Regions from separate parts of the Homo sapiens genome. Here region 1 is linked to region 2. The links come from fine-mapping of genetic effects on plasma protein levels. A gene starts in region 2. The other region holds a variant in brackets. All regions are shown on one strand. Distances are between the middles of the regions.

Region 1 (2,914 bases), 100 kb before region 2:
TTTTTCCTAATGTTCTTTGTTCTATGCTGACAAATAGGAAACCCTGGGCCAGAGCTTTGGTTAAGAAGGATATAAAGGACTCAGGGCAGGCTCAGAGTTCAAGAGATTCAAGACCACGCAGATTTTAAGGTAAGTTTCAGCTTGGAAGAGGATCCTTCAGTGGCAGTAAGATTTACTTTAAGTTTCTTTACATTTATAACACACAATGAAGAGAAATCCTCAACATGAACCATTTTCTAAATGTTTTTCTTAGAAAACACAAAACTTCTAACAGGATTTATCATTCAGAAAATATAATGAAGAACTGAAATACAAAGAATTTTCACACTAGGTTATTAATTTCTAAATTATTATTCCTTGTTAAGTTATTATGCCTAGACTTTAAAATTATAATAAAAATAAATAAAAACCTTCTTAAGAATAAAAGTCTCTGGTAAATGAATGGCAAAACTCTGGTTTATCTATGATAATATTGATAATACAACAAGTTTGAGATTCAACTGAGTTCTAATGTGATTATAATCCTGAAAATCATATAGCAATATATGAGTGTGTGTGTGTGTGTGTGTGTGTGTGTGTGTGTGTGTATACATGCCTTTTTGCTTTTGCAATTCTTTAAGGGAACAGAACCATACTCACTATTGTGCATATAGTACCTAGCATAGCCACTGACATGAGATGGGAAGTTCATAAGTATTATATTAATTAGTTAATCAACCTTTATTGCATGTCTAGTGTGTGACCCAAACTACTTTGCACAGTGGTGAGTAAAATTATGAGACATTGCCCATTGTCTTCAAAGAGCTTACAGCTAAATAGGGGAGACAAGACCTCCTGCATAAAGCTATTAGAGATTCATTAGAGAATAAATATCTTGAGATAACAATGCAAGATGATAAATATGTGGTTAGGTGTGAACAACTGCACTTAATAACAGAACCAGACAATGGTGTTACATTTCATAAACTGTAACATCAGAATAGTTCTCTTCCTCTTGTATCCAAAACAGAGGTGTCCATATTACAAGCTATTTGCAGGGTTAGGGCAATTCCAACCTTGAAGTAGACACGGCTGAGCCTCTACTCACACCCCAACATGCTTCTTTGCTAACGATACCCAAAGTCTTGATTGAGACTAACAGGTGTGACAGTACTTATTTAGTTGCTGTCTGCCT[T/C]ATCTATGAGGCTAAAATGCTTTCTGATATCTTTAATACTGACATAATAGCTAATAATATAAGCAAACTGAAAGACTATCCCATTGTCCTTGCATGGTATTGGGCAGAATTTAGTGAGCCATACAGCCTGTCATCAAGATCTTTATACAAAAAGGCAAAAAGTTCTAAAAAGCAGATAATCCAGAAATAAATTACCTACTTTTCATGAGAAGTTTCATTTAAAAAAATTTAAAAAACACTTTTATTTGAAATCCGGTAAAATTGCAATTAAAGATAAAATAAAAACAGATTAGAGCATGGAGAATATAATTTGTATACTCAGATGGATGAAATTGCTTTGTATCTAAAATAGTGTGCTGAAAACAAAGTTCCTTGAAGATTTCCTTTTGTTTAATCTAAACCAGTAGTTTTCCAAGTGTTCTACAGAGAAGCTTCCAGAGTCACACAAATGTTTAATAGAAACATAATTTCTAAACATATTTAGACTATTTTAAAAACTAGAAAAACACACGATACAATATACAGTATATTTTAACACACTGGAGAGACTGTGATGCTCATCTCGACTCCTAGGTTAACTTTTTTTAAGTGGATATTGGAATAAAGCTTCTTATGCCATCTCTATGTATATTTTGAAACTCTTACAAATGTGGTATTCACTAGGAAGTTTATAACTTTATACTGTTCTTTTTAGGTGTATGCATATTCACTCTTGAAACAGTGGATGAATGAAGGGAGCACCACGGAGCACCTCAATGTTGTGCATGCAAAACAAATTATTCAAATCAATGGGCTGCTGAGACTTGACATTAGATAGTAACCATTACTTGTAAAGTCATATTTCAAATTTTTATTTTCATTAAAACAGCTTCATTGCTTTTGTGTGGTTTGTAAGTTCTATAAATTTAAATTTATAAGATAAATTTATACACATATTTTATCACTTCTCAAATAAATTGATATATACATTTTATTTATAAATCATATCCTTTACAAAATAAACTTATGCTAGTAAAATAAGCAGTAAGTTATTTTTCTTTAAAAAAGAACTTGCTTATAGTTGTTAATAGTCTAAAGTACCATAATATTTTAAAATATCATATATTATTAATTTGCCAAAAACAAATCTTATTCTGGCTCCATTTTTGTTTTACTCTTCACTCATAAAAATTGCCCTATATGAGATCAGTATGGACCTCAACAAAATTAATCATTTTCGTTGGATCACTATTCTCTCTGTTGAATATATTGTTCCCACCATCCCCTTCAATAATATCTTGGACTTCAGTGGCAATGTGTTTTCTAGTTTAATCCTATCTCTCTGATCATTTGTTTTCTTCACTAACATCTGGGGTATTTTTTCTCTGACCATTCATACATCAAATATTAATAGATGATATATGTGCCAGGAATTTACTCCTGCATTAATAAATGAATCTCTAAACCCACTTAATAGCATAAAACTACCATTTTATTTGACTTATGATTTGGAGCTAAGGTGTCCAAGAAGGGCTCAACGTGGTGATTCATCTTTAATCTTTGACATCAACTTGGATTCCTAGGGCAGCTGGGGAGCAACTTCTTAAAAGGTTTCTTCACTCACATGTATTGCACATAGGTACTCTTTGTGTGCATTCTCCCCCACCTCTCTCTCTCTCTCTCTCCCCAACACCTTTCCCCGTGCCTTGGACTTCTCATAGCATTGCGGTTTCAGGGTACTTGCAGTTCTTACATGGCAGC
Region 2 (2,890 bases):
AATTTACATAAATTGAAGGCAATCCAGTAATAGGGATTACAAATGGAGGAAGGAGATAGAAGTGCAAGTGTCACTTGCTACTCTGCAAGGCTTTAGCAATTGACTTACACTGAATTATTTGAGCACAAAAATTAGCAAAGCACCTATGAATCAGGGACTCTTTCAAAGTGACCTCCCAGAAGTTTGCTGCTGTGTTAACCTGTAGTGCTAGTGTAGTCCTTCAGATATTCTGTTAAATATAATACATAGGGCAGGCTTATGTTAAAATCACTTGAGGCTTGTGACTTTCGACTAAATACTTCTTCAGTAATTACTGAAAAGTTCATCGGCTGGTGCTACCGGAGAAAAGACGTGGAAAGCTCACCATTTACTAACGACAGCCAGGGTGTGCCCCACTCAGGGGTGCCGGCCCTCTGTTCTCCCATCCCTGGGTGGGCCAGAGCATCTTACTCTCTGCTGCCTTGGGCCTCCACTTGGGCTGGGAAGATAAGAAAGTAGTGGACCTTCCCCTTCCTTCCCCAAGACTGGGAAAATCTTTCCAAATCTTATTCCCAGTCTTCCAGATGCGAGATTAGAATGTACAACAGATCCTCTCAAGAACACTGGGAGACCGAGGGTGGGAGAGAAAACTCCAAGGGGGGCGAGCTGACTATAGAGGGAATTGCCTGAGCGGGAAAGGAATCTTCCAAAGCCACAGAAAAGCCTTGGTTTGGAAGAAAGCCGTAGCACAGCTGCATTTCCAACGGGAAGGTCCTGAGCGCACACACTTCTGGGTCCTCCCCGCTCGGAGCAGGTAAACCTCAGAGTAGCTGACCGGCAGCACCCACAGAGTTTCCTCCCCACCACCCGCCTGGCGACCAACTGCAGCCGAAAAGAAAGAAAGAAAGGAAAGAAAGAAAGAAAGAAGAAGGAAGGAAGGAAGGAAGGAAGGAAGGAAGGAAGGAAGGAAAGAAAGAAAGAAAGACAAAGAAAGAGGAAGGAAGAAAGAAAGAAAAGAAAGAAAGAGAAAGAAAGAAAGAAAGAAAGAAAGAAAGAAAGAAAGAAAGAAAGAAAGAAAGAAAGAAAGAAAGAAAGAAAGAGAGAGAAAAAGAAAAAGGGAGAAAGGCAACAGAGGAGAAGGTCAGGAAAGCCGGGAACAAGTCAGCAGCCAGAAACTCTCCAGCGATCTGCCAAGGGGGAGAGGGTAGTTGCGCGCCGGCGCTGGGGATGGGGTGGGGGCGCTGGGGCACAAGGGCGCAGGGGCGCACGGCCACCGACAGCCGGGTGCGCCTAGCTTGAGGCCGCGGAGAGGAGCCGAACTGGGATGGGTGGGGGGTCTTCGGCCTCAACACTGCCTGCCAGCCCCAGTGCGCCCAAGTCTCCCCGCCAGAGCTGCCCTTCTGGAGGGGCTCTTCGCACGCACTGCTTTCCCCATTCTTCTGGCTGGAATTCTCCGGCCGTCACTGCAGTGTCCAGAGATGCTGCGCTGTAGACCCGGGACCCCTTAGGCGCCTCTTCCCGTCCCTCTGCCAAAGCGCAACGCCTGTACTTTTCCAGCTCCCTCTTTCCCTCTTGAAATTGAAAGTTATTGAGGTCGCTCAGGGTTGTTGCTCCAGCAGTTTCCTTCCCCGCCCCCGAGCTCCCCCCCGCCCCCCACAGCCATCCCCCCTCCTCTCCCCCTCCCTGCCCTCCTCTCCCTCCCCCCTCCCTGCCCTCCTCCTCCTCCTCCCCTATGTGGTGCTCCCGGGAGCCCAGCCCAACACTGGAGCGTCTCCTGCTCGCGCACGCCAGAAGCAGCTCGGGGTCTCTCCGCCGCCCCTTGGCCATGGCCGCTGTGCCGACGGCGCCCGCTCCCCTGCGCTCCAGGGGCCCCCGCCGCTGCAGCCGCAGCCGCCGCAGCTTCTGAGCCCAAGGGGCCGCCGCTGCAGCCGCCGCCGCCGCCGCTCGCCCGCCCGGATCCCGCCTGCGGCAGTTGCCGCACAACATGCTACCTGCGGCCGCCCCGGCGGCTCCTGGAACCCCGGTTCGCGGCGATGCCAGCCACCCCAGCGAAGCCGCCGCAGTTCAGTGCTTGGATAATTTGAAAGTACAATAGTTGGTTTCCCTGTCCACCCGCCCCACTTCGCTTGCCATCACAGCACGCCTATCGGATGTGAGAGGAGAAGTCCCGCTGCTCGGGCACTGTCTATATACGCCTAACACCTACATATATTTTAAAAACATTAAATATAATTAACAATCAAAAGAAAGAGGAGAAAGGAAGGGAAGCATTACTGGGTTACTATGCACTTGCGACTGATTTCTTGGCTTTTTATCATTTTGAACTTTATGGAATACATCGGCAGCCAAAACGCCTCCCGGGGAAGGCGCCAGCGAAGAAGTAAGTGCAGGGTTTTTTACGCGTTTGCTCCCTCCCGCCGCGTTCACCTGTCGGGTCGCTTTGCCTGTCCGGAGCCGGCTCCCAACTGCAGCGGTCCTCCCGCCCTGCGCCTCGCAGAGGAGATGCAGGTTCGGGCTTTGGGGGTATGGACGGCGTCTTTCACCCTTGCCTCTCGGCGCCCCTGCCTTCCGCAGCATCCTAGCCGGTGCGAGGGGCGGGCGGACGCGGCGCTAAGGTGGCTCCCGCCCCATGGTAACTTCAGGTTCGCGGGAAAGTTCGGTCCTGGGTTAGACTCGCACCCGGGATTTGTGCTTTCCTTTTGAGGATCGGACAGGGGCACCCAGCCGAAGGCACTTGGGACTCCCAGACGCAGGATGCCTCTGACCGCTGAGTAAATGACAAGGGAGGCGCGGCCGCGGTACCCGCTCACCTAGCGCAACCGCCTCGCGCGGGGAGACCTCGGCTGGGCCCTTAGGCTGGACTCCGGTAGCCGAACGCCCGCTACCCGGCCAGGAAGCCAGGGAGCGAGCG

Direction of the effects. Alleles are on the strand shown, and positions count from the first base shown. The strength of an association depends on the size of the effect and on how common the allele is.
As copies of T replace C in region 1, the plasma level of the protein whose gene starts at base 1,741 in region 2 goes down (weak association).

Evidence for each region. PIP is the posterior inclusion probability: the model's chance that the variant is causal. Protein levels are from antibody-based Olink assays in UK Biobank. Linkage for the fine-mapping came from a reference panel and not from the study's own genotypes, which makes the PIPs less certain.
Region 1: its variant is fine-mapped to the plasma level of the RSPO3 protein (UK Biobank, PIP 0.99).

The regions. Positions count from the first base shown.
Region 1 is chr6:127,016,438-127,019,351 of GRCh38, forward strand. All of the region lies in intron 5 of LOC105377989 (a long non-coding RNA gene), which reads right to left. Among named protein-coding and RNA genes, the nearest start is that of RSPO3, 100 kb to the right of the region's middle. The variant T/C (reference allele first, on the strand shown) is at 1,175.
Region 2 is chr6:127,116,931-127,119,820 of GRCh38, forward strand. It overlaps RSPO3 (R-spondin 3), which reads left to right and starts at 1,741. Exons shown (of 5, transcript NM_032784.5): 1 at 1,741-2,359. The coding sequence starts at 2,263. It overlaps LOC105377989 (a long non-coding RNA gene), which reads right to left. Exons shown (of 14, transcript XR_002956387.2): 4 at 1,971-2,890.